2 linked regions of the Homo sapiens genome follow. The protein of the gene in region 1 purifies or fractionates together with the protein of each later gene. This does not show direct contact. Each region holds a gene or a part of one and is shown on either strand. Other genes may lie near its edges. The genes, in order: KIF12 and MMADHC.

The links.
Region 2: the proteins of KIF12 (region 1) and MMADHC purify together in Homo sapiens (affinity purification with mass spectrometry; 2 studies listed by BioGRID and IntAct, with this or other methods). This does not show direct contact.

What each region holds. Positions count from the first base shown.
Region 1 is NC_000009.12:114,097,318-114,101,232, reverse strand, and holds the start of KIF12 (kinesin-like protein KIF12), read left to right. Parts: upstream 1-1,940; 5' UTR 1,941-1,956; coding exon 1,957-1,982; exon of another isoform or gene 1,983-2,063; coding exon 2,064-2,129; exon of another isoform or gene 2,130-2,219; coding exon 2,220-2,298; intron 2,299-2,771; exon of another isoform or gene 2,772-2,803; coding exon 2,804-2,931; intron 2,932-3,042; coding exon 3,043-3,118; intron 3,119-3,491; coding exon 3,492-3,626; intron 3,627-3,796; coding exon 3,797-3,915.
Region 2 is NC_000002.12:149,580,882-149,584,796, reverse strand, and holds part of MMADHC (cobalamin trafficking protein CblD), read left to right. Parts: intron 1-2,525; coding exon 2,526-2,670; intron 2,671-3,915. UniProt on the Homo sapiens protein: Involved in cobalamin metabolism and trafficking. Plays a role in regulating the biosynthesis and the proportion of two coenzymes, methylcob(III)alamin (MeCbl) and 5'-deoxyadenosylcobalamin (AdoCbl). Promotes oxidation of cob(II)alamin bound to MMACHC.

The sequences.
Region 1 (3,915 bases):
CTCCAAAACAAAACAAAACAAAACAAAAAAAACAAAAATCCCTTCAGCGTGGCTCATCTCAGTCCAGCCTGAGGAGGGCCAGCAATCTGACTAAACCAATGCACACTAAGATGCTAGTGATTGATAGTCTTTAACACTTTCAACAGCTTTTAAAGGAGCACCTTGTTCATTTACTGGGTTTACTCCTGACAAAAGCAACTTGCCATAGCAAGCAGCATCAGGATGTACAGCTCATAGTTCTGGGTTTAAACTCTCAGTTCTGCCATTTGTTGTTTTCTCCTTAGATAACTTTCCCTGCCTTTCGCTGTTTAGTTCAGTTTTTTTTCCTCTGAAAAACAGGGATAGTAATTTTTGTCTTATCCACCTCAAGGACTCAAAAAATAGATTAAGGAACTTCAGAGTTGAAAGGGAACTTAGAGATCATCTAGGAATTTTTATTTTTGTTTTTAGGTAATTATTTACAACTTTCACTTTCAATGACACATCTCATTGAAATCTCAGAACAACTATGTCAAATAGGAGAGAAGTCATTAATCTCTTTTTACAGGAAGGAAACAAGAGAAGCCAAGACTGTGGCAAGTTAGTGGCAGAGCTGGGGGCAGTGGTTATTAGTTCTACAGAACTTTCCCTGTGGCCCCTGCTAGAGGGTCCTATAACCAAAAGGTCAAATGGCTCTTTCTTATACATCTCCATTGCCTGGGGAGCTCACTGCCATCCAAGACAGCCCATTCTCCAGCAGGGTGGCTTTGATAGTTGGCTGTAATTTGTGGTGGTATAGAATGTGTCACATTGAGAAAAAGTGATTTTTAGGGCTTTCACCCTAATGTGTGTTTGGGGGCCGGAGAGTTTGCAGAAATATTCAGAGAACATACAAAGACAGCCAGAATGACAATAATAATAACAATGCCAACCTGATGGTGTCACATCCCTGTTTATAACCCTTCAATGGCTTCCTGGTTCCCTGAAGAGTGAGTCCAGACTCCTTGATGTGCCCACCATAAGCTAGATCCAGCCTCAAACTACCTCTCCATGCCACACTCATCTCCCCACCCCACCCTGGCCATCCTGACTCCTGTTTGCTTTGCCTGGAATACCCTCACCTCCTCCCCACCCCCACTGGCTCCTACAGGCCTCTGTACTCCCCCTAAAGGCCCTACACGCTGCTGGGTTGTACTTATCCATCTCCCCAGACACACTGTGAGCTGGGAAGGGTCAGGGGCTGCATGGGGTTCCTCTGCCCTGGTGCCCAGCATGGAGACTGGTACAGAATAAGTGATTGCCCCATCCCTGCACATTCACAGACATCTCTGCTGTTCTCATAAGCCAGACCAGGAGAGGGTTAAACAATCATGCTGGCCTAGGATTAACTTTGGCATTAGAGAGGCAGGTGCCCCAGTGTTTTACCAGATGCTTGGAAACCTGTTCTCAGGTCAGCTCAGAGATTCAATCCAGCCAGGTCGTCCCTAGAGCTGACTGAGACCTGTGCCACTCCTTGGGCCCTGAGCTGAGCTGCTGGGGGTGGGAGTGGGGGGTATGTGGAGAGGGTGGGAAAAGCTTGGTCCTGTGCAGGCTAGCTCTGTGGCCTTGGTTGAGTCCTTCCTATCTGCTTAGGTATCCCCAACTGGGCACAAAGGAGGCCGGTCTGGGTGGTCCCACGGGTTCCTCTTGTGAGGACTGGCCAAGAGCAAGGGATCCTCAGACTCCAGAACCCCCTAGCTAGGGGTCCCCTAGCTTGGGAGAGACTTTCTCCACCGCAGGGGTGAGGAAGGGTAAATCTTTAACGAGCTAGCCCTGGGCAGCTGGAGTCTTTCCGGATGGATGGCTGCCTGGGATGGGGGATGGGGTGGGAATGCAAGATGTGTGTAGACAGTCCCAGTGTTGTGGAGAAGGGAGGGTATTGGTGGGGGGTAAATAAAGGAGACGCGGGCGGAGCTAACTCCGTGTGCAGAGCAGGACATGGAAGAACGCGGGTCACCCGACGGGTAAGCAGATCTTCAGACAGGTTCGAGGAGTCCTGAACAGCCGCTAGGTGCAGGTATGATAAGTCGCATTGCTGCCCACAGGGATCTCGCGCGGAGCCTGGAGCAAGGGCCAGAGGGGCCGGAAACGCCCATCCAGGTGGTGCTCAGGTGGGTATAAATTGGCTAGGAGGCACCTGGGCGAGACAAGGATCGAGGAAGACATCAGGATGTACCATCTGCCCTTCTGTCGGACCCCAGGGTACGTCCCATGAGCGCGGCCGAGCTGCGTCGAGGGCAGCAGAGCGTGCTGCACTGCTCAGGGACCCGGACTCTGCAGGTGAGGAACCCCTCTCTCTATCTCCCCAATAAAAAATCCCGGGGACGCCAGATCCCTTCCCCCAGGCAACTTTGCCCTAGGCCCCGCGCTCCCCCGGAGTGGTCCTCTCCCAGGTGCCCCGCCCTCCCCAGAGTGCCCCTCCCTTCCAGGATGCCCAGCCCTCCGCCAGGGTGCGCCGCGCCAACCCCTGCGAGTGCCCCGCCCCTTCTGAGTGCCCGCCCACCCAAGGTGCCCGCCCCCCCCAGAATGCCCCGCCCCTCCAGGGTGTCCTACCCTCCCCAGAATGCCCCGGCCCTAGTGAGTGTCCCCCACCCCACCCCCAACCCAGGGTGCTCGCCCACCGAGTGCCTCACCGAGCGCCCTACCCTTCTCCAGGGTGCCCCGCCCTCCTCCAGAGTGCCCCGCCCTCCTCCCGCGTGCCCCGCCCTCCTCCACGGTGCCCCGCCCCTCCAGGGTGCCCCGCCCTCCTCCAGAGTGCCCCGCTCCTCCGCCCCACCCGCGCCAGGTGAGTCCTCCAGGCGGGGGTCCAGAAGTGGCGTTCCGCTTCGGTGCGGTGCTAGACGCGGCGCGCACGCAGGAGGACGTGTTCCGGGCGTGCGGCGTGCGGCGCCTGGGGGAGCTGGCGCTGCGCGGGTGAGTGAAGCTTCGCCTCCGCTCCGCGCCGGGCCTGGCGGGGCCCCGAAGCACCCCCAGCCCCCACCCCGGGTAGCCGCCGGAGTCCAGCCACGCCCTTGCCGCCCGCAGTTTCTCCTGCACTGTTTTCACCTTTGGCCAGACGGGCTCTGGGAAGACCTACACCCTGACTGGACCCCCTCCCCAGGTGAGCGAGCGCCGGCGGCGCCCCCGCGGGGCGGGGCTGGGTGGGCTGGAAGCCCTGGGGAGCCGCAGGCGGCGCAGACTCCCAGAGGGAAGGGGCTGGGACGACGCCGCCTGACCCGCTTGTTTGCAGACGAGGACGCTGAGGACCAAAGAGAAGGGACTTGCCCAATTTGGAGCATTTGGGCTTCAACTTTGGCCCCTTCCTAGCTCTCAGTTTTCTCATCTGTAAAATGGAAGTGACAGTACCGACTATGAATTAAATGAGCCATTGTTTGGGAACTTGGCACGTTTCCCGGCGCACGGTATCATACATGCGCTACAGAGGGTAGTTATTACTGTGGAGATGACGATGGCTCAGCTGGTTTTGCCCCTAGGGGGAGGGGGTGCCTGTACCCCCCAGCCTGGCTGGCATCATGCAGAGGACCTTCGCCTGGCTGTTGGACCGCGTGCAGCACCTGGGTGCCCCTGTCACCCTTCGCGCCTCTTATCTGGAGATCTACAATGAGCAGGTAAGGGAATGAGAGGAATAGAAAGACAGCCCATGAGGAAACGGAGCGCTTCTTTCCAGGGAGCCTGGATCAAAGGACAGAAGAGGCGGTGGGGACTGTTGTCAGTAAGATCTGGGGATGGGTGGACTCAGAAAGATCCCCTTCCCTCACCCTCCTCCCTCCCCTCCCAGGTTCGGGACTTGCTGAGCCTGGGGTCTCCCCGGCCCCTCCCTGTTCGCTGGAACAAGACTCGGGGCTTCTATGTGGAGCAGCTGCGGGTGGTGGAATTTGGGAGTCTGGAGGCCCTGAT
Region 2 (3,915 bases), on another chromosome or scaffold:
GATTACAGGCATGAGCCACTGCACCCAGCCAAGATTTGAGAATCTCACAGGTTAACGGGTAAGGTTTGAAACAGATTAGTACTATCATCAACTGTCGCTTTCAGTGGGCAATTTAGATACTGGTTTATTTTGCTATTAAAATGAAATTTGGTAATTGGATTTTCTTAGGCTAGGAACAAAACTCATATTTTATTATATAACTTTTGTTAAAAGTTCTATCACCAAGAAAAGAATGTCAAAATATAATCTAATGGCCTTGATAGACAGGCTAAAATAATAAATAATAGGCGATTTTTGAAATAATTTGGATGATCTTCCTCCTCCTTCTGTTTTTTGCTTGTGAAACGATGTGAATGATCGCAGATTGTAGTTTAACCATGCTGAAACTAGTTCTAATAACAGTATATAGAATTGTTATGAAAATTAAATAAAACAATGTATATGTACAGCACTTACTATAGAACTTGGACCCATAGTGTCCAACATTGATTATTACTATTACATGCTCTCAAATATTGGCCCCTTCAGATAATCTTTTATTTTGCTGCTGCTTATTTTGAGCCCTTGCTGAAAATATTTTTGGAATTTGAAATTTTAGATTCCTTTAGATCCTGAGGCATTCTCTTAAATATCCTTAGTTGTAAAGGTAAATTTGTATTATATAAACACCCAAAAGTCTGAGTTTGTTTAGTAAGTAAAAAGCCAAATAATTACCATTTTTGTTTCTTTGGGCAAGTTGGGTACAGACCCCAAGAGAGGCAGCCTAAATTTTCAGGTTGACAGAATGCTTTGGAGACACGTATCACAAAGGAGGTTATATTTATCCAGGTCTTAAAGAAAAAGTAAGAATTTGCTAGAATTTTCTAGAACGATAAGGAAACAGTATCTTTTAGCAGAAGAATTCTTATGGCAGTATAAAGAATGAAGAGAAATGGGAAATGTTGGGGAGATATTTTTATGTAATTGAAAAGTAGAGTAAGGGAAGGGAGGGTAAATTTGTAGGAAATTATGTCAGAAAGGCAAAAAGACCAGTTAAGATGCACTCATAGTGACAAAGGAGGAAGGAAAAAATAGGTTGGATATTAGAATACTGTACTTTGTGAAAAGGAAATAGAATAATTCTCAGGTGTCAGATGGCTGGATTTTTCCAACATCCTGGTAACTGATTTTCACACCACCTCTCTACTCCTCCTCCAGTCCATTTTTTATACTGCCCTTAGTGGTACATTTCTTAAAACAGCCTTTGTTTTTGTCAGTTTGCTCTGACTCTTTCCTGCCTACAAATTAAAATTCCGACTTACTATCTTGATGTAACAAGCCCTTTACCATCTGTGTCAAATATACAGTCTTTTATAGTTGCCCATAAGTTCAATTTCAAACCTTTTTTTAATTGCATTCTTATACCTACCCTCACTGAATTTGTCACTCTTTGAAATATGTCTTTATTCCTTTGTTCCTGAAAGTCACTCATTGAAATGCACCTTTTCCCAAGCAAATTTTTACTGTATTCAAAATTTAGTATATCCTCCATGAAATTTATTACCTTTTCTCCCAAGGATTTCTTAACAATTATTCAGATCTTTTCATAGCATTTCACAGATGATTTGATATTTGTTTTTACATCTTTTTCACTAAACTGAGAGTTGCCAATGTCTGTGTGTATGTGTGTTTTTAATACAAATATCCGGATAGTGCATATTTTAGGCTTTGTGGGCCACAGAATATCTCTTGTAACTACTTAACTCTGCCATTGTCGTGGGAAAGTGACCATAGGCAGTACATAAATTAGTATGTCTATGTTACAGTAAAACTTTATTTACCAAAACAGTGGGCTGTATTGGGAAATCGTTCGCCAATCCCTGCATTAAATTGTTCTGACCCAAGTACTTTGTTAAAAAATTTATGAATGAAAGATTGTTAAAAAATTTATGAATGAAAGATATTTACACATTCATCCATTGTAATACATGACCTCACTGTCTAGTAAGTGAACATATAAGCAGAAAAAAATATACCACAAAGATACGTGCTGAAATGGAGAAAAGCAGACATTGCCATGAAACCACAATGAAAGGACAGTATGGGAGAGAATTAGCGCAATTTATAGCAGTAAAAGAAGAGAGAAAAGTTCGAAAGTAACAGATTTTGGTCCAAAGAGATGTCTTGAGAGTTCTTTATTGAGGATAGAAGAATCTTGTTAGTTGTGCTACCTTTTTAGTGTTGTGTCTAAATAAGACAACTTTTAGATGTCTATTCTCTCATGTGTGGCACTCTTGAATTCTAGCCTTTATTGAAAAGTACATAGGCTTTTACCCAAACTAACTTATTACTTGTTTTTTTAATTTTTATTTTTATTTTTAAAATTACAAATATATATAATGCTTTCATATAGTAGGTGTTCAGTAAAAGTAGAATAAATGTTGGTTTTAAAAGAACCTTGCAGTGTGAAGATTTGCCAGAGATTGTCTATGTAAGTATAACATTTATATTCAGAACAAATAGTTTTAATTTTGTGTCATTTCTAGGTGCTTTGTAACAGAGCCAGACTGGTTTCCTATCTCCCAGGATTTTGCTCTTTAGTTAAAAGGGTTGTCAATCCCAAAGCCTTTTCGACTGCAGGATCATCAGGTTCGGATGAGTCTCATGTGGCTGCTGCACCTCCAGATATATGTAAGTGAAAGTTGTTACTGCTTTACTTATAATTGTTTCAAAACATTTTTAGTTGTATTTTCCTCTAATATTTCTTCTTAAGGCTTAATGGATTTTTCTAAAGTTGTGTTTGTTCAGTTGAAAATGAATCACAGCTCTGCCTAAATATATTTATGTCAGAAAGCTACAGTATTGAAAAAAGAGTAAGTACTGGTTTCTAAAGCTTACTTCTTAAACTTTTCTTTCTGTCTTCAAACATAGAGTCTTCCCTGAAACAAATCTCCTTTTGGTCCTGTTAAACCATATTATTATTTCTTCCCATTCTTTGCTAGATTTCATAAATGTACCTTGTACTTTTTATGTGTTAGTGTTTATTGAACTTACCTGCTTTCTACAAAGTCTGTTTCTTCTAACCTGTTTGGTACACCACTACCATGCTAATCATTCTAAATTATTTTAACCATGTCCCTTTCTTGAAAAACCTGTTATCTTTCATTGCTTTCAGCAGTAGTTCCCAGACTACCTTCAAGCCATGAAGCTTTGTTCAAGGTTAAAAAGAAAAAGTGGGGGTAGGGGGATAGTCTCTGTGGTAGGTAAGTTTGAGAAATGCTACATGCCATATTCCTGCCTTGGAGGCTTATAAGGCACACTAAAATATTAAAGACTCTTAGAAACTTAACCTAATGTGTCCTAAAGATATTGGACATGGAATCCTTTTTTCATGGCACACATTACTTACAACGTAATTTAAGTTCACTTGAGCATTCAGAGCCTTCCATCCTGCCCAAGTTTTCTAACTCTCTGACTACTCCCCAATTTACATCACCTAAAGACTAACCATATATTTATAATAAATGAAAGATTTTGCCATTCAAATTATATAAGATGTTAGTATCTGGAATATATAAAGAATTTATAATAGATCAATAGGAAAAGATAACCCAACAGAAAATCAGAAAACAAAAGGACATGAATAGGCCTTTCACAGAAAACAAAACCTAAAATGACCAGTAAACATATGGTCAAATCCACTGCCCAAATCTACTATTAATATGGGATGCTTGTTTTCTGTAAAGAGAATCTAGGGATTGTTAGACTTTTAAAAACCATCTTGTTCAAAAATAGCTAACAGGTTTTCTCTTGGGAAGTGACTTGAGTAGTCATTAGTGGCTGTCTAGATAGAGCCTTGTTATTCAACATGATCTGCATCAGTATCATTTAGGAGCTTGTTAGAAATACAAAATCTTGAGCCCCACTCCAGACCTA